Linked DNA regions of Homo sapiens: regions 2 and 3 are each linked to region 1. Evidence: fine-mapped expression QTL. A gene starts in region 1. Each other region holds a variant in brackets. All regions are shown on one strand. Distances are between the middles of the regions. Region 1 holds the start of SNX27 (sorting nexin 27). Region 2 overlaps CELF3 (CUGBP Elav-like family member 3). Region 3 overlaps SNX27 (sorting nexin 27).

Region 1 (7,106 bases):
TGACTTTGTTATTGTGAGAACGAGACAAGCTCTTGGATGCAAAGTGCTCTGTCAATGGTCCAGATCCTATTTCTGAAAGCAGCATCATTGACTCCCACTCTCTCTGGGTCCCCCAGCCCCCTGGCTCCTCTTTCACTGGATGCTCTCCCTCTTTCAGTCTCCTAAATGGGGTGACCATGGGAGCAGATTCTCCACGTTCTGGACTTGGCACTCTTCTCATCTGACTGCACAGTATGTTTTGGGGTTCTCATCTACCACCACCCAGGGCTGATGGCTCCCAAATCTAAGTTCTGGCCCAGACTCCTTTCCCCAGGTCCACACTCATGTGTTCAACCAGTTGTTGGACAATTCCTCTGGGCTTTCCCAAAGGCCCCAAATTAAACTAATCTTCTTCTTGTTTAAATCAAACAAATTTAAACAAATTAAATTAATTTTCCCTGCAAACCTCTTCCGCTTCCTTTTTATGCCATGTCTTGGGGAATCACATCACCATGTCAGGAATCTTATGTCATTCCTTCCTCCCCTACCTTTGCACCTGAGATCCTAGTGGTCACCAAGTCCCTTCTCTCCTGTGCATCCCCCTCCTTGTATTCCCACCACTACTGCCCTAGTTGGCACCTCATTAATTCCCACTGGAATCACTGCAAATGCTTCATAACTGATCTTTCTATCTGACTTCATTCTCCACACATCCTGCAGCATGAACTTTTTGAAGCACAGATTTGTGAATGCCTGTGCTCTGCTTAAAAGCAATCAGAGGCCCCTCACTAATAAGGAATGAAATTCAAACTCCTGGGCATGATATTTGATTTTTTTTTTTTTTGAGACAGAGTCTTGCTCTGTTGCCCAGGCTGGAGTGCAGTGGCGCAATCTCGGCTCACTGCAAGCTCTGCCTCCTAGGTTCACGCCATTCTCCTGCCTCAGCCTCCCGAGTAGCTGGGACTACGGGTGCCCGCCACCATGCCCGGCTAATTTTTTTATTTTTTATTTTTTGTATTTTTAGTAGAGAAGGGGTTTCACCATGTTAGCCAGGATGGTCTCGATCTCCTGACCTCGTGATCCGCCCACCTCGGCCTCCCAAAGTGCCGGGATTACAGGCGTGAGCCACAGCGCCCGGCCGATATTCGATATTTTAAGCCCTCCTGGATCTGACTCTTGCCCACCTCCCCTGTCCACTTCCTGTCTCCTCTGCTCCAGTCCTACTGAACTGTGTGGTCTCACACTGTACTGTGTTCTTTCAAATCTCTGTGTGTTTGAATATGCTGTTTCCTTTGTCAGAAATGCCCTTCCACCACTATCCTTCTCTGCCGCAATTGCTAACTCTTCTCATCTGTAATCACTTAGCTCAGCTCTCCCATTTCGTGAGTCATCTTCCCTAACTCCTCCCTCTGGATACGTGGAAGTCCCTCCGATGTGCAATCCTAGCAGCTTGTGCAGGACTCTCCTCACAGCTCTCATCATGCTCTATTGCAATGGTTTTTTGTTTTCTCTCCTGCTAGATTGTGAATTCTCACCAGCAGTAATGGTGTCTTATTTTCTTTTGTTATTTTAATGCTCTGATCATCTTTTCTTCCAACCTGATCCTTTCTAAATATTTTTAAATTTATTTTTTGAATAGGCAACACTCATGTGACTGAAAATTCAGAAGTTACATAAAGGTATAAAGTGAAAAGTCTCTCTCCTACCCCTGTCCCCGCCTCTGACACCCTAGCTATCCAGTCTCCCTCCCCAGCAGCAATCAGTGTTATCAATTTCTTGTGAATACTTCTAAAGATATAAAAATATATATGGTTCCCTTTTATTTTATTATTATCTTTTTAGATGGAGTCTTGCTCTGTCGCCAGGCTGGAGTGCAGTGGCGTGATCTTGGCTCACTGCAACCTCCACCTCCCAGGTTCAAGCGATTCTCCTGCCTCAGCCTTCTGATGAATACAGGCACCTGCCATTATGCCCGGCTAATTTTTGTATTTGTTTTGTTTTGTTTGTTTTTGAGACAGAGTCTTGCTCTGTTGCCCAGGCTGGAGTGCAGTGGCACAATCTCAGCTCACTGCAACCTCCACCTCCCGGGTTCAAGTGATTCTTCTGCCTCAGCCTCCCGAGTAGCTGGGACTACAGGTGTGCACCACCACACCCGGCTAATTTTTGTATTTTTAGTGGAGACGGGGTTTCGCCATGTTAGCCAGGCTGGTCTCAAACTCCTGACCTCAGGTGATCCACCCACCTCGGCCTCCCAAAGTGTTGGGATTACAGGCGTGAGCCACCGTGCCTGGCCCATGGTTCCCGTTTTATATACAAATAGTATCATGTTGTATAGATTGTGCTGCACTTTGTTTTCACCAAATCATATATAGTATTGATGATATGATCATTCCATATAAGTGCATACAGAGCTTCCTTATTCTGTGTTTACATTGATTCAATTTTCCATTGTGGATACATTATGATTTAACAAATAAACATTAGGTTGTTTTCAGTCTTTTGTGAATACAAACAATGCTGCAATGACTTAACTTCATAAAAACATCACTTCACACATGTGCAAGTGTAACAGTAGAATGAACTCCTGGAAGTGGAATCGCCTTCAGTTTGAGGAATATGTGTATTTGTAAGTTTGACCATGTCCTGTTGCCTTTCGGGGACATTCAGTATATTTTTATCTAATTCAGAGTAGGCATTCAGTATATTTTTATCTAATAAACCAATGAAAAAATAACTCTTTTAGGGGAGGCTCCCTTCTTTTTCCTTTCTCTGATGCCTTGCTTTCCCCATCCAGTGCTCAGTTCAAACCAAATTATTCATATTCAATCCAAATGCCACTATTATTTTGGAGCAAAACTCTTATATCAACTTTATTGTGTAACTAGTCAAGATCCTTCTTCATTAGCTTGGTTGTAAAATAAGGTCATATTAATTTTTATGTTCTAATTATAATGACTTTGAGTCCTCATCCCATATTTTGTGAGATCTCATCTTTGTTTTTTGGAGACAGGATCTCACTCTGATGGTCAGGCTGGAGTACAGTGGTGTGATCTCAGCTCTCTGCAGCCTTGACCTCCTAGGCTGAAGCGATCCTCCCACCTAAACCTCCTAAGTAGCTGGGACTACAGGTATGTGCCATCATGCCCAGCTGCTTTTTTTTTTTTTTTAGATATAGTCTCGCTCAGCCACCAGCTAATTTTTTATTTTTTGTTGAGATGGGGTCTCACTATGTTGCCCAGTTTGGTCTTGAACTCCTGGGCTCAAGGAATCCTCCCACCTCGGTCTCCCAAAGTGCTGGTATTACAGGCATGAGCCACCACACCCAGCCTTTAAAAATTTGGGGGGACTCTTTTGTAATAACAGTTAGCTTAAAACACAAACACATTGTACAGATGTACAAAATATTTTCTTTCTTTATATCTTTATTCCATAAGCTTTTTTTCTATTTAAGGCAATTTTTAATTTTATGTTTTAAACTTTTTTTTTTGGTTAAAAACTAAGACTTAAACACAAACATAGCCTATGCCTACACCAGATCTGGATCATCAATTTCACTGTCTTCCACCTCCATCTCTTGTCTCACTGGAAGGTCTTCATGGGTAATAACATGCACAGAGCTGTCATCTGATGGTAACAATAACTGGGGCCAGGCACAGTGGCTCACACCTGTAATCCCAGCACTTTGGGAGGCTGAGGTGGTTGGATCACCTGAGGTCAGGAGTTCGAGACCAGCTTGGCCAACATGGTGAAACCCTGTCTCTACTAAAAATACCAAAAAATTAGCCAGGCATGGTGGCGCATGCGTTTAATCGCAAGGGATTTGGGAGGCTGAGGCAGGAGAATCACTTGAACCTGGGAGGCAGAGGTTGCGGTGAGCCGATATCGTGCCATTGCATTCCAGCCTGGGCGATAAGAGCGAAACTCCATCTTAAAAAAAAAAAAAACAAAAAAACAAAACAAAACAAAAAAACACAATACTTGGAATACGTGGAAAAAAATCACAATACTTAGAATACCTAGAATACCTTCTGAAGGACCTGCCTGAGGCTGCTTTACAGTTAACTTAAAAAAAAAAGTAGAAGGAGTACACTCTAAAATAGTGATAAAAACTACAGTGAATTCATAAACTAGTAACATAGTTCTTACCATTATCAAGTATTATGTACTGTACATAATCATATGTGCTATACTTTCACATGACTGGCAGTGCAGGTTTGTTAACACCAGCATCACTCCAAACATGTGAGTAATGCTTGTGCTATGACCTTATGGTGGCTACTGTGCCACTAGGTGATAGACATTTTTCAGCTCCATTATCATCTTAGGGGGCCTCCCTCGTGTTTGCAGTCCATTGTAGACCAAAATGTCCTTATGTGGCACATGACTGTAGTTGCAATACAGGACAAGAAAGTTGCACAATAACTGGGCCTTAGTTCCTGATACTTAGTAGCTGGATGACTTTGAGCACTCTAAGGTTGTTTCCTAATAACGTAAAATAGGGAAGCTAATCGTGATCCGGTTGCCTCACAGGTTGTTGGGCCCTGGTCAACATATAAGTTACTGTGCCAAAAAATGAGTTGATATAATTTAAGACTGTGTTGAATCACAAACGTTAAGTTATTCTAACATTATTGTTTTTTAGAGGTTATGAAATGAAAGGGGGGGGGGCGAAAAACTTGGTCCGCATCAAGAACTGAATCATTTTACCACGCTGGGTGCTGGGTTATACTCTCCCCACCCAGCAGATCAAACTCCTAACCCAGCATGAAAGATAAACTACAACTCCCGGCAGGCCTTGCTTCCGAACTGCGTCTTATAACCTCGGCTCAGGCCCAGGCCCAGACCGCTCCCCGCCCCCGCCACCCATAAACTACATCTCCCAGGAGGCCCCACGGTGCCCGATTGTCCGCTTTTCGCCCGCCCCCTGCCTCCTCTTCACCCCGCGCCAGCAGCTCGGTGGCCGAGTCGGTCCCGCGGCCGGCGGATCGGGCGCGCGCGTCGGGGGTCGTCCGGCTGCCAGGCAGGGCGAGCACGCGCCGGGAGGCCTTGGAGGCGTAGGGGGCGGGGGTACGGCTCGCCTGCTCGCAAGATGGCGGACGAGGACGGGGAAGGGATTCATCCCTCAGCCCCTCACAGGAACGGAGGTGGCGGCGGCGGCGGGGGGTCTGGGCTCCACTGCGCCGGGAACGGCGGCGGGGGAGGCGGCGGCCCGCGGGTCGTGCGCATCGTCAAGTCCGAGTCCGGCTACGGCTTCAACGTGCGGGGCCAAGTGAGCGAGGGCGGGCAACTGCGGAGCATCAACGGGGAGCTGTACGCGCCGCTGCAGCATGTGAGCGCCGTGCTGCCCGGGGGGGCGGCCGATCGGGCCGGGGTGCGCAAGGGGGACCGCATCCTGGAGGTGTGAGTATCGGGGCTACCCGCCGCCCCATCCTCCCCGCGCCCCTCCTGCCCCTGCACTCCTCGCTACCCTTGTCACCCCCAGGCCGCACCTCCCCCGAGCTCCGAGCCGGCCTCCGGACCCCCGCCCCTCAGGCCTCCGCAGCCGGGCCCCTCCTTGTGGGCTGCCCTCCCACCACCCGCCCCGGGGCTTCTGCGACGCCGGTCTCCCACCCCGTCGTCTCCAGCTGATGCCCTTGCGCCCCCAGTGCTCCTCCCTGTGCCCCGATTACTCTGGGCTCTTCTCCGCCCCTTTGCCTTCCCGTTTGGCGTGCTGCATTCTGCTCCTCACTCCCCCTCGTCTTGCTCAGAAGGAACCTCATCTGCTCCTTACTGACGGCGTTTCGTTTTCTGATCCAGCCAGTACCGTGTCCCCCCCAAGTTCTCATCTTCAGCATCGCAGTTTCGTTCTCCACCACTCCCCTCCGCCCCCGTGGACTGCCCCTTCTGCCCTCCAGACCAAGTAGGCAGGACCTCTGGTCTGCTCCTACTTTTCCTCCGGAAACACCATCCCTCCCCGCTCGTCTCCTTTTTCTTTCCTTAGTTACCCTCTCCTCATGGTTACGCTGCCCCTAAATTTTTCCATCCCACCGTGTGCCCCTTTCCTCCCCTCCTTTTTGTATTTCTACTCCAAGAGTTTACCTTGCTTTCTGACCCTTGCATGCCTTTGGGGTGGGGGGCGTGGGATTTGACACCGTAGTTTCTCTTCTCGGTTGGCCCCGTATCACACCCTAATTTGGAATCTAGCGTCTCCATCAGCACACCCCTCTGAGAGCATCCCTTCCCTGGCCTCCTGCCTTCACTCCTGCTCTATACTCATGCCTCCTCCTAGTCAGGTTTATGGTAGACCCCTTGTAACTCCTCCTCCTTCAAAACTACTTCAAGCCCTTTTTGGGTCTTTGACCGCTTTGCTTTTTTAGGGCATGCCCGTCTCTGCTGCCTCTTCTACTCTATCCTCCTGTGATCCCACACTTGACTTTGTCCTAGTCTTTCCCTCCCCTAGGCTGCTTTTCCTTTCTTCTGTTTTTTAAGGCGCCTTCTGCTGCTGCAGCCCACCCTCTCTCCCCTGCTGCAGTCCCTCCCCCTTCATACGCCTCCCCCACCACATCCCTCCATGCTCTTGCGGGATGCTGCCTTGTCTTGCAATCTCTGTGCACACCGCCTCCATTACCCTAATCTAGGTGTTACATTTGCCTTTTTGTACTTCGTATTGAAATTCGGATAGTGATTGCCGGTTGACTTGCAGGTGGTGTGTGCTCGCGTTGTCTCCGTTCTCCTCAGCAGTCTTCAGTGCTGTGTTTCTGCTTACTGAATCTATGTTGTGCATTCCTTTTTTACACTTTTACTCTCTCCCTCCATATTTCGATTTGCCCACTTGAAATCGTTCTCATTTTTTATAAATTTTAATTGTAATTTCCGCAACCTTCTGTTGCCTCTTGTAAAACAGTAGGTTTGCAAAAGGGATAGTTTTTTGAAAATCTGCCTTATAGAGAAATCCATTCCTTCTTACTCATCTCGTGCCATCTACCCTTATCCTTGACATTCTTAACTCCATGGTGTCCACTCATTCTGTTTCCTCACCTCTTCCACCTCAAGAAATGGTTGGTTTTAACCTGGGAGAGTTGATTGAAAAAAAAAAAAAGAAATAGTTGCTCACCTAGGCCAGTGTTTGGAGACAGTATACCTTTCCT
Region 2 (7,416 bases), 96 kb after region 1:
GAGCCCAGCAGAAGGCAGATACCCCGGAGCCTTCGAGCCTGTTCCTCGCTCCCTCACAAAGGCCAAAAGGGCATCTAGGAGGAAATGGGCCCTTGGAGCCAGGGAAGCATAGCCATGGCCCTTCAGAGAGGCAGGGGGGTGGGAGGGGCCGGTGTCTTGTGCCCCCGGGGGCCACGAAGCAGCGTTTGCCCCAGAACCCAGTCAAGGCCCAGGGCAGGTGTGCGGAGAGGGCCGGGGCCAGTCGTGGGAAGAGGGTGTGAGGCGCCCCTTCCTCTGGGATCTCCAGACCTGTGAAGGAAGAAACATGGGTGAAGCATGGGGAAGAGACCCCCGATGCGGATCACGGGCTCTGGGGGAGGGGAGGGGGCTGGGGTGAGTGACAGCATCTAGGATGGGGCTGCCTGAGGAAGGCAGATCATCAGGCCTCAGTCCAAACGGACCCATCTGCCCCCACCCCCAGCCATGAGAGCAGGGATAGAGGAGACAGGAGGGAGGGGGCAAACCATACAGGAAACCAAACGGTATTAGGAAGGAAATAGATAGCCCATGAGAAAAATAAAGACTGGAGGGGGAGAGAGGCAAAGAGATGACAACAGACAGGCAGGCAGAGAAATCGAGAGAGAGACAGAGAAGGGGGTGCGTGTAAGAGACAGACACCTGGAAAAAGAAAGGGAACACCCGCAGAGAAGGCCAGGGCAGAGCCCAGGTCACGGCTCAGGGATGGAGTCTCATGGGGTGAGACCACCCCCGGCCCCCAGTTAGTGCTCTCATTCCTTTTTGGAAAGGAACACAGAAAGCAAGAGAAATGCACAGAACACAGACCACAGTCACCAACCACTGTAGACCAAGCACGTCCCGCGAGCTGCCCCCGGCCCTGACCTTGGGCTTGGGGGTGCTTCCCTCCGCGGCCCCTCCCCAAAGAACAAACAATCGGCTCCAAAGACAACACGCTCGTTCCATGCAACTTACAGGGGCCCGGAGCAGGGGTCCGGGGATGGGGGCTTCGGCCGACAATGGACACGGGCCCTGGGCTGGGGGGGCCCCCAGGGTTGGGGGAGTTAAGCAGCCAGGATTGGGGGGAAAGGGGAGAAACAGAAAATGTGGGTATTTTTCTTGGGTTGTGTTTTCTCAAGGGTTTGGTCCAAAGGAGATTAAACAGTGCGAAAGTAACCAAGGCTCACAGCTCTGTGGCCATGAGGTTGAGGTGGTGGCCAGCAATGGGGTGGAGGAGACCTAAGTAAACTTCACAGGCGGCGCGACATTTCAACCTCTTCCACCTAAACCAGAGCAACTCCCAAGAGGCCTGAAAATGGGCTCCCCCAGTCTGTCCTGTGCACTCTGCTGCCCCATGGGTCTGCTGCTACATGGGAAAAATCACCTGAAGTCCAGGGAAACCAGGGCTGATGTCCTCACTTCTCAGGACAACAGAGATTCTAGGAGCCAAGGATTCTAGGGCCCTCTGGCACCCTCAGCCAACCCCTTAATCCTCCAGTCCTGTTCCCCTAATTCCACTCTAACCCGAAGGAAAACCAGAAAGAGACACACACAGACATGGACACTGACCAGACAAACGAGACCAGATATTGTGGAAGGTCCAGGGAGTGGACACATATATACAAAGACTTGGCTCTTTCTGGGGTCACGGAGGGTGTGTGTGTGTGAGAGAGAGAGAGAGAGAGAGAGTGACTCAGATTATTGAAAAACAGCTGAGGGAGCTGCCCCAGCCCCCTGCTTCAAGTGCCCAGGGTCAAGGGTGGGGTGGGCATCCCTGAGGGTGGTGGAGGACAGGGGTTGGGGGTGTAGTCCAATCGAGGGCCCTGGCTGCAGTGTGTGAAGCTGGGGAGGGAGGCCACAACGGAGCGGGACCCACCTGGGGGCCCTCAGTAGGGCCGGTTGGCATCCTTAGGCCGCTTTAGCTGGACTTTGAGGCGCTTCATGCCGATCTGGAAGCCATTCATGGCCTGGATGGCAGCCTGGGCACTGGCCGGATTGTCGAAACTCACAAAGCCTGGGGTGAGAGGGGCATAAGGCCCGGCCCAGCCCCACCTCGCTCTTCCGTGCTTAGGAGACCTCTGGCACTACCCTGTGTCTCCCAAGTGTCCCAAATGCCTAGAAAGCTGCCTGCCACATAGCAGCATTCCTTAGGAATTTGTTGATTGATGGGTTGAATGGATGAATCCAGTCCAGCCACTCCAACTACCACATTCTTCCCAGCATTCTGTGCCAGTGACCCCTTCCTCTGCCTGGATAGCTCTGAGCCTGCCCTTTGAAAACGGCCACTTCCAGACCCTAAATGGCTTCTGAAGCAGAGAAGAACATTCCCTTTCTCCCCTGAGGAAGACTTTCAAAGATGTGAAGGCAGCTAAAACCGACTCCCCAAGCCCACCTTTTGCAAACCAAACATCCCCAGACCATAAGCCTATTTCAGACCTCATGGGACATGAATTTGGCCAGTTTTTAAGAGAAACGCTGAAGGAAGAAGAGATGGGCCGAGGCAGCAGCTGGGTGTGGCATGTTGGGTGTGTCAAAATGGCTCTTTTGTACTCTTGGATAATCAGTATTTCAAATACTGGGTCCACTGTGACCATAAATGCCTTCAAATATATTAGACCTTGTCCTGATTTGGAGTATGGCAAAAAATGTGCCATATCATATTCTTACCAAAACATTTGCTTTGATTGGTGGCTCGGTCAACAAAGACTTTGGCTGAGATGACGTGGCCAAAGGGGACAAACATCTGGAGGATCTCTGAGTCAGTGAACTCCTGGGGCAGGTGGTAGATGAAGATGTTGCAGCCATCAGGGCCTGGGTGGCGACAGAGACAGAAGAAAGAGCTCAGTGACTGGGAGGCACACACCCCAGAAGCAAATGTCCCAGGGAAAGCAGATCCTGGGAGTGCCCTCCAGTCCCAGTCCTTGACAGTGTGGGCCAAGTCTCCGGCCACTCCCTCCCCACTTGCTTTCATCCTGACACGTGGGCAAGAGCTGGGCTCAGCGCGGGGTGACAGGGAGTCCCCAAGCCCATAACGAGGGCATTCCTGTCTCCCAAGGCCCCAGCCAGCACCTTCTCTTTGCTGCTGCTGCTGTTGCTGCTGCTGCTGCTGCTGCTGCTGTTGAGGTGGTGGTGGGGGCTGCTGGGCGACCAGGGCTGGAGGCTGCGGGAACGCAGGTGCAACCAGGCTGTAGGCTGCTGGGTAGGCTGCTGGGGTGGGGAGAAGAGAGAGGCTGATGGGGCTTCCCTGACTTCTTGAGCCCTCCCAGCCAACCCTGTCTCCCTTCCCCTAGCCCAGGCCAGTGGCACCTGCAGGGCTGAGAGGTGGTCAGGGAAGGAGCTGCCTCAGACCCCTGGGTGTGCTGCCCTTAAAGACCCCTCCCCACAGTTGGGCTTGTCAGTAAAGCCTGAAGAGGGTGATTGGCAGGGAGCCAAGAAGCCCAGACCCAGTTACTGGGCCTCTTTTCCTCCTGCCACCTCTCCCACCTGAGCAGGGGCCCTGGCTAGGGCGCCTCACCTGTGTAGTGCTGCATCCCCGCGTAGGCCTGCTGCAGGGGGTCCACGGGGGCCGCGGGGCTCTGGGCTGGGGAGAGCAGCACAGACTATGAGCGTGGACCTGGCACACAGTGGGGGCCCTCAGTGCCTCTCTGGGCCTCTGGGCCGAGGCCAGGCAGGTGGGGAGCAGAGCTTCTCTGGGCATGGGGTGTGAAGTGAGAAGGCAGAAATGCACAAAGCAGTGGGAAGAGGGGAAAGAGCCCAGCGTTAGGAAGACTTGGGTCTGACTGTCTTGCAACCCTGGACAGGTCGCTTCACTGCTCTACACCTCAGCTTCCTGGCCGAGCCCAACAGGAAGGATCATCCCCGCCCA[G/C]GATGGCAGGGCAGGAGGAAGCACCTGTACCCCCAAAGCTGGGAGGGAAGGTGTGTCCTGCCTCCCTAATGGGAGTGGTGGTTTAGATGGTTGCTGGGACGGAGTGGGCAGGCAGAGAGTCCCACCTGGGTAGGGGTGAACCCCGTTGGGATACAGAGCATCAGGGGCAGGCTGCCCAGTGGGCTGGGTGGGCACCGGGCTGTAGCCGTTGACGCCCAGGGCAGCCGGAATGGCAGAGACAGGCGTGGCAGCGATGGCAGGAGGGGTGCTGGTTCCTGGGGAGGAGAAAGCGACAGGGAGAGAGCAGAGGAGCAGACACACACACAGGCAGAGAACCAGTCAGCAAGTCTGTGGGCAGAGGGGAGGAAGCAGGCCTCTCTGACCCCTGAGTCCCTCCCAGACCCCGAGGCTTCCCTGAGCAATGCCCTGTGCCCCTCCCTACCCCTACCATGCTTAGCTCCCTTGCCCGGCCTTGCCCAGGCCATACCTGAGGATGGGGTGATGGGGGTGGCGATGAGGCCATTGGCATTGATGGCAGCCATGTGCTGCATCTGCACGGCAGCCATGGTGGCCATGGGGCTGAGGTAGGCACTGTGAGCCGCTACCAGGGCCGCCTGCTGCTGCATCAGCTGGGGGGAGGGGAGAGGAGAGTGGGGCAGGCCCCCTGTGCCCAAGCCTGGCTCCCTCCCAGCCCGGGGCCTTGGCATCGGGAGGGTGGGGGCAAGATACAGGGGGTCAGGAGGGCTGGCCCGGCATCAGGGGCAGTGCTCACGGCCTGGGTGTAGGCGCTGTAGGCTCCAAACTGGAGGGCGATGGGGCTGAACATGCCCAACTGGGTGGCCACCTGCTGCATGCGGCGGAGACCTCGCTCCTTCTCAGTGTCAGCAAACTTCACCACCAGGCTGGACGAGGCACCCTGGGCACGGGCCCACACACAGGTCAGAGGTGCAGGGTCAGGGTCTCTCCTCCCCAAAGCCCTCAGGACCTGGTCTCCATTCCACCCCCATGGCATGGCTTGGCCTCTCTGAGAGGGCGGCCACCATTTTGCGTATGAAAGATGGGGAGATATTAATCCCACTCTCTCCCTATGCTAGGATGTGCAAGAGGCTAGAAGAAAAAATGAGGAATGTGAAGGCACATGCTTGGAAAGTGAAAAGCCTACTGGAATGAAAAGGGCATCATTGGCTACTCTGTGAGGACTCTGAACTGGAAATCATCCCCACCCTGGGTTGCCACAGCAAATGTTTAATCTCAGGCTAGTCTTCCCTTGTAGCTGCCCTGCGTGCCTTACCACGACTCCTGCCCCCACACCCCAGTCCTCATGGTGTGCCTCAAATCTTAATACTAGTCTGAGCTGAATAAAAACCAAATTGGAGCATTTGCAAGGATGATGGTAGAATCCTAGAATCTCAAAGCTGGAAGGGGCATAGGGTCATTGGACACAGTTCTCTACCCAATGCTGTGTCCCCTCCACCAAGGCCCCGTGAAATGTCTGCCCAGCCTTTGCTGGAGAGCTGTGAGTTATGGGAAGTGCACAGCCTTCTGAGTCAGCCAGTTCCAATTTAGAGGTGGGCTCTAGACTGGTCACTGACCTAACGCTGCTGTGCAGGGGCAGGGAAGAGGGGTGCACGTGGGGCCTCTAAGCAAGTGTCCTGGCGCCCCAGCAAATGAGGGTAGGGGGATATGGGAAGGCTGGAGAAGAGACGGGGGTGAAGGGAGGGCTGGGGAATGGAGGGAGAAGGAGAGGGATGTGAGGGAATTTGGCTGAAGGTGGATGGGGAATAGGGGAGGAGTGGGGAGGTGGGGAAGTGCCATTTGAAATGTGAGGGTGTCCCTAAGCAGTTTGGTTCTTCTGCCAGGACATTCCTTTCCAATAAATTCAAATAGCCCATCCTGAGTGGACTGCTTCTCTGGGCCAGGGCCTGGCAGGTGGGCAGGGTGGGAAGGAGAGGCCCGGGGGCAGGGGAGTGGGGCTCACTGGCAGGGTCCGGCTGCTGTGAAGGGTGTTGATGGCCGCCTGGGCCTCAGCGTGGGTCTGGAACTTCACGAAGGCGCAGCCTGGAGAGGTTGAGATGGAGGAGGAGAGGGGTAAGCACCCATCCCTGCGGGACCCCGCGGTGGAACCCGATGCCTAGGGAGTCTTGGGGGTGGAACAGGAAGGGGAAGGGCCCGGTGGGGAAGGGGGAAGTGGGTGGACTACCTTTGCTGGTGCCATCTGGCCCCCGGAGCACAGTGCACTCGTCGATGGTCCCGAAGGGCTCAAACATCTTCCGGACGTCCTCATCTGTCTGCTGCTTCCCTAGCATCCCCACAAAGAGCTTCCGGTCTTCTGGGTGGTAGGGCACAGGAGGAGGGCATGTTCAGGGCCTCCTGGCTGCCTTCCCAGCCCTTCTTCCGCCCTTCCCTGGAGCTCCTAACACTACTTCTGCTACCCTTAGGGTCCAATGGCTGTAGGGGCTGATGGTTGGGGAATGGGGTATAGTTGCAGAGGGTGCTCATCCCAGCTCTGAGGGACTCGCACTCCACCCTGGGCCTCAGTTTTGCCATCTGTACCCGCCCCAGATCTCACCCGCTCTGGCCACACTGACTCCTATCTCACCGCAGCTGGGAACTCTTCAGAATCATCAGGCTTTCTCCCTCAAGAAAGGCTACCCCTCGACAACTCCAGGCCCTGGGCCTGGGGGTGGGAGGAGAGGGACAGAGTCCAAAGGCACAGAACCTACCTCCTCGGCTCTCGCTGTCGGCTGGCTTGACCTGGATCGGCCTGTTCATCTGAAGGAGAGAAGAGAAGGCAGCTGCTGGGGACCTCCTCTGAACACCCAAGAGCCCTCCCAGGCCAGGCCCTGCAGAGAGACTAGAGGGGCAAGCCCCAGGCCCTCTAAGTTTCTGATGGGAAGGAAGGGACAGGGCCTAATACTGTTCAGGATGAAGGCCTGAGGGGATCAGAGGCACAGAGAGAGAGGATGTAGAGGGAGAGGCTCATGGGCACAGCTCCAGGCTCAGGTTGGGCTCCTGATGACTTGGCCAGGGATGGGTGCTGCTGTCCTGAGTGGGAGAAGGGGGCCTGCACATAGGACCCGGGGCCTGAGAGAGAGCCCGACCAAGGAGTTATTTAATAAGAATTGCCTCAATTCTACAAAGTGGGCGCAACAGAGGCCACTCTGAAGAAGCCCCAAGGAGGACTCTAGACTGAGGGAGACCCCACAAAGGCCCAGACTTCCTTCTGACCTCTAGAGGTGTGTCTGCCTCTCTTTCTGCCCCCCTATACCCCTTGACCCCAGGGGGAAGGCACTCGGGCAGCACAAAGGGAGCAGATGCCCAGTCTCCGTGGCAACGGGAGAATGCGCACCATGGCAACCGCCCACTCAGCCTGATTTATCCGTCCCCGTCGCCCTGGCGACCGTGGTGACGTCATCACTTCTGCTGCTCCACACACCCAGAGAAGGAGTGGGGTGGGGGGTGGTTAACAGGGTATGCTGGGGGTGGAGGATTTGGTGGGGGCTGGGAGGTGGGGGAGGGGCCCAGAAAACCTTCCTGATTCTGGAGGGAGGCTTGCA
Region 3 (5,000 bases), 71 kb after region 1:
TGGGGTTTTACCATGTTGCCCTGGCTGGTCTCAAAACTCCTGGTCTCAAATGATCCACCCAGCTTGGCCTCCCAAAGTGCTGGGATTACAGGCATGAGCCACCGCACCTGGCCACAAACACTGTGCCTGGCAGCTGTTTTTTGATGGACTAAGTAAACAACTGTATCTTTTGAAAAGTATATTAAATTTCTCTTACTTAATTTCAATTATTTTTGTATCATATTTTGATGGTAGGAATATTTAACGAATTTCACAGTTCTAAAATGTTATCAATTATAAGATGCACCATTATTTTATGTATTGATAAGAGAAAAAAGCTGTCAGTTAAACTGATACATCATTGATTGTAAGATACATCCCAATTTCAGAAATGTTAAAATATGAAATAATGTATTCATTTAAATTGATGAGATATTATATGTTAGTTGCTAATGGTAATAATGAACCTTTTCCTTAAAAATTAATAAGGTAGAAATTAATCATTTATATTTAAATTCTGGCTAAACCTAGCAAAGTGTACACACATTTAAGCTGCTGTTTCCTGAAAGCTCACAAAAGTAGCAGTATTGGAATTTTAAAAAGCGTAAACTTGCAAGGACAAAGAGAACAAGGGAGGATACCACAGCAAATGACAACCGTTGACAGTTTTTAGAAAATGAATGTCTAAGTAAAAGAGTTTTGATATTTGGTTATTGTGGAGGAAAAATTGGTGATAGGTACATGGGAAGTTACAAACAAAAACACGAGGCATTTAACCTCAGAGGAAATAAAAAATTTTGCAAGAAAGGAAGTCATAGCATAGTATATAGCTTAGTTGTGAATAGTGTTTACATATTTATAATAATGCAGTTATTGAGTATTTAATTTTTTATTGAGAAGTTGGGGGAAGAGGAAGTGGGAGTGTTTGGGTGCTACAAGAGAGTTAAAACCAAATATTTTCAACACAGTAAGTCAACAGTGTCTAAAATTGGTAAGTCAAGAATTGTCAATGTAAGCATGCCATTTAGAATTATGGAGGGATTATCACAAGAAATTGCTTAAAGTGCCTAAAAGTAGTTGCTTTTGTGGAATGACGCTCTGGGATCAGAGGCTGCTGTTTTTATTAGGAGCCTTTTAGTACTATATGTTTTGTTTTTTTAAATTATATACATCTTTTACTTTAATTAAAAAAATTTAAGAAGAAAAGGAAACTAGGGTGGTGATATTTATGTTTTCCACTTAGTCAGTCAAGCAGTGTAATCTTTTTTTTTTTTTTTTTGAGACAGAGTCTTGCTCTGTCTCCCAGGCTGGAGTGCAGTGGCATGATCTGGGCTCACGGAGATGTAACCTCCGTCTTCCGGGTTCAAGTGATTCTCTTACCTCAGACTCCCGAGTTGCTGGGATTACCTGCTCCCTCCTCCACATCCGGCTAATTTTTGTATTTTAGTAGAAATGGGGTTTCAACATGTTGGCCAGGCTGGTCTTGAACTCCTGACCTCAAGTGATCCTCCCGCCTCCACCTCCCAAAATGATGGGATTGCAGGCGTGAGCTACCACACCTGGGTAAGCAATTTCTTGATTAGAAATGAAAGAAGACCATTTTTACTGCCCCATGTGTAAAAGAGCTCACTTGGAATTGCTGGAGTAGATAATCACTGTGACCCACCTCTGCCTTGGGAAAGTGTTCATCAAATATTAGTACTGTTGTGAGTCAGACATAGTTCTAGGCGTTAGGGGTAAAAACAAAACAGAAAGACAGTATTCTTATATTCTTATTCTCATCGAAACAATACAGAAATAAAGAAAAATAGTTGTAAAGCCTTTTCCCTGAGCTAAATAACACTGTAAGTTTCTTTGGAAACTGGATAGACCAGTATTGTTTATTTATTTCCCCCCTCTACTTCTCTGCTGGCTTTTCAATAATTGGTTTAAATTTGGCTGGAGC[A/C]GTACAGTGTTTTGGTGATGAAGAGGAAAGTGTTCAGGATCTTCAGGACATTGACATTGCATCGTGGTTCTTCTTGAACATCCCCTCTGTGGCTATAATCCTCGGTGCCTAAGTGAGCCTTCACTTGTATGGCCAGGTTGGGGAGAGACTGGCATAATCTTTCTATTAGTCACTTCCTGGCAGGACATTCATATCCTTGTACGGTTCTTAGAAGAACTTAATAGCTAAATGATACTAATAATAGCTACTGATATATACTTTACAAAACTCTTAACATCTGTCATCTTTTTCTTGTACATCTATGAGATATTCCAGTTTTACACAGTGAAAGGGTTTACATGACTTATGCAAGTACACATTGGTAGGTGACAGAACTAGAAGTTGAATTAGTCTCTCAATCTTTTTTTTTTTTTTTTTTTTTTTTGCGATGGAGTCTTGCTCTGTCACCCAGGCTGGAGTGCAGTGGTGCTATCTCGGCTCACTGCAAGTTCCGCCTCCTGGGTTCACGCCATTCTCCTGCCTCAGCCTCCTGAGAAGCTGGGACTACAGGCGCCTGCCACCTCTCCCCGGCTAATTTTTTGTATTTTTAGTAGAGACAGGGTTTCACCATGTTAGCCAGGATGGTCTCGATCTCCTGACCTCGTGATCCACCCGCCTTGGCCTCCCAAAGTGCTGAGATTACAGGCATGAGCCACCGCGCCTGGCCCTCTTGACTTAATCTTGAACTCATTTGCCTATCCAACTATCTTTCCTTAAAATACTCTGGGAAATGCTTTCCACCTTGAGTACCAAACATCATTGATCTTCCTTATTTCATTCTCTCTTCAGGTTAATTCATGTGGCTTTCAAACACAAATCAAACTTTCTTTAATAAAGAAGGAGCCATTTCTTATTGCTTATTTTAGCTCCCTGTTGTTTATTTCCTTAAGTCTAAATTCCTGTGCCTACTTTTTAGGATTTTTCATAATCTAGTGTTAGTCTGCCTATCCAGCATTATCTTTAATTGTCTCCTGTTCCCTTATTTAAATCAGGCAAATCTGTTTTCTCAAAGTATTTAAGCACAGACTCATTCCTGTTTCCTATCTTTAGCTTATAGTTTCTCTTCTTCATTCTGTTCTTTGGGGATCCACCTAAGGCTTCCCTGATAACTGTAATTATCAATAAGTGCTTCCATTCTGACTGCCTATATCACTGTCTGTACCATACATGTTTGCTATTTCATTGTAATGCAGCATTATATACTGTCTTTCAGTGCTCTCTAATTGTTTACACATGTATAAAATAACTGGAATTTAAGTCCTCTGACACGAGAAACCAGATCTCTCACATATACCTAAAAGAATGCTTGAGCGCTTGCCAGATATTCTTTAAATGCTAGTTATTCCAATAAGTATACCTGTTACTGGATGTGTTAGTCCATTTTCACACTGCTATAAAGACACTACCTGAGATTAGGTAATTTATAAAGAAAGGAAGGTTTTTTTTTGTTTGTTTGTGCTTTTTTGAGATGGAGTCTCGCACTGTCACCTGGGCTGGAGTGCAGTGGCATGATCTCAGCTCACTGCAACCTCTGCCTCCTGGGTTCAAGCGATTGTCCTGCCTCAGCCTCCCGAGTAGCTGGGATTACAGTTGCCTGCCACCATGCCCAGCTAATTTTTTGTATTTTTAGTAGAGACGGGGTTTCATCATGTTGGCCAGGCTGGTCTCGAACTCCTGACCTTGTGATTCACCCGCCTCAGCCTCCCAAAGTGCAAGAAAGGAAGTTTAATTGACTCACAGTTTCGCATGGCTTGGGAAAGCCTCAGGAAACTTACAATCATGGCATAAGGTGAAAGGGAAGCAAGCACCTTCTTCACAAGGTGACGAGAGAGAGAGCACATGCAGGGGGAACTGCTGTTTTTAAAACTATCAGATCTAGGCCAGGTGCGGTGTCTCATGCCTGTAATCCCAGCACTTTGGGAGGTCGAGGCGGGCAGATCACTTGAGGTCAAGAGTTGGAGACTAGGCTGGCCAATGTAGTGAAGCCCCATCTCTATTAAAAATACAAAAATTAGCTGGGCGTGATGGCTCATGCCTGTAGTCCCAGCTACTCTGGAGGCTGAGGCAAGAGAATCGCTTGAACCTGGGAGGCGGAGGTTTCAGTGAGTCGAGATTGTGCCACTGCACTCCAGCCTGGGTGACAGAGCCAGACTCTGTCTCAAAACAAACAAAAAAACCCCATCAGATCTTGTGAGAACTCCCTCACTATCATGAGACCAGCATGGGGAAACCAGACCATGATCCAGTCACCTCCCACCGGGTCCCTCCCTCGACATATGGGGACTACAATTTGAGATGAGATTTGAGTGGAGGCACAGAGCCAGACCATATCCCTGGACATGTGGCAGAGTTCACTGGTAATGATGGTGGTCCAAGTGGATAAGAGATTTTCTGAAAATGCGTCTGTGTCTGTTTTCATCGAGAATGTACATAATAATGATTTTTACACTCCTTTCTGCTCTACTTCTGTTTTGGTGATAGGCAGTCGATGATGTGAAGAAAGGTTACATCAAAGCAGAAGAAAAGTCCTATCAATTACAGAAGCTATACGAACAAAGAAAAATGGTCATGGTAAGTTTATGTCCCCATAATCCCTTTAAAAATGCCCCTTCCTACCTTTAAAACCTATAGTCCTAGTCATTTTTGAAAGGATTACAACCTGGTTAGTGGCTTAACTAATTTTAAAAAAGGAGGGGAATAGGGACCTTGATGCAAAGTCCATTGTGTTTCTCCATTTAACACACAAAGATCTTGAATTACTGTGTATTAGTACATAATTTTATTATTATTTTGGGGGGTGGGGTGGGGGAGGGACAGAGTCTTGCTCTGTTGCCCAGGCTGAAGTGCAGTGTCGCGATCTAGGCTCACTGCAACCTTTGCCTCCTGGGTTCAAGCGATTCTCCTGCCTCAGCTTCCCGAGTAGCTGGGACTACAGGCATGTGCCACCACACCCAGCTAATTTTTGTATTTGTAGTAGAGACAGGGTTTTGCCATGTTGGCCAGGCTGGTCTCGAACTCTTGACCTCAGGTGATCCAC

The links.
Region 2: its variant is fine-mapped to the expression of SNX27 in whole blood (TOPMed, PIP above 0.99).
Region 3: its variant is fine-mapped to the expression of SNX27 in whole blood (TOPMed, PIP above 0.99). The same link has a PIP of 0.9 or more in T cells.

The regions. Positions count from the first base shown.
Region 1 is chr1:151,607,134-151,614,239 of GRCh38, forward strand. SNX27 (sorting nexin 27) reads left to right here and starts at 4,917. Exons shown (of 12, transcript NM_001330723.2): 1 at 4,917-5,379. The coding sequence starts at 5,069. It overlaps LOC124904420 (a long non-coding RNA gene), which reads right to left and starts at 6,235. Exons shown (of 2, transcript XR_007066622.1): 1 at 6,058-6,235; 2 at 3,384-5,266. RefSeq lists an enhancer at 4,693-4,792 and a silencer at 4,833-5,272.
Region 2 is chr1:151,703,161-151,710,576 of GRCh38, forward strand. CELF3 (CUGBP Elav-like family member 3) reads right to left here. Exons shown (of 13, transcript NM_007185.7): 3 at 6,583-6,631; 4 at 6,060-6,188; 5 at 5,838-5,917; 6 at 4,632-4,775; 7 at 4,347-4,488; 8 at 3,985-4,134; 9 at 3,509-3,574; 10 at 3,064-3,201; 11 at 2,662-2,805; 12 at 1,871-2,008; 13 at 1-288. The coding sequence ends at 1,881. Among named protein-coding and RNA genes, the nearest start is that of CELF3, 9.9 kb to the right of the region's middle. RefSeq lists enhancers at 2,538-3,038, 3,039-3,539. The variant G/C (reference allele first, on the strand shown) is at 3,860.
Region 3 is chr1:151,678,912-151,683,911 of GRCh38, forward strand. It overlaps SNX27 (sorting nexin 27), which reads left to right. Exons shown (of 12, transcript NM_001330723.2): 8 at 4,445-4,534. Among named protein-coding and RNA genes, the nearest start is that of CELF3, 35 kb to the right of the region's middle. The variant A/C (reference allele first, on the strand shown) is at 1,925.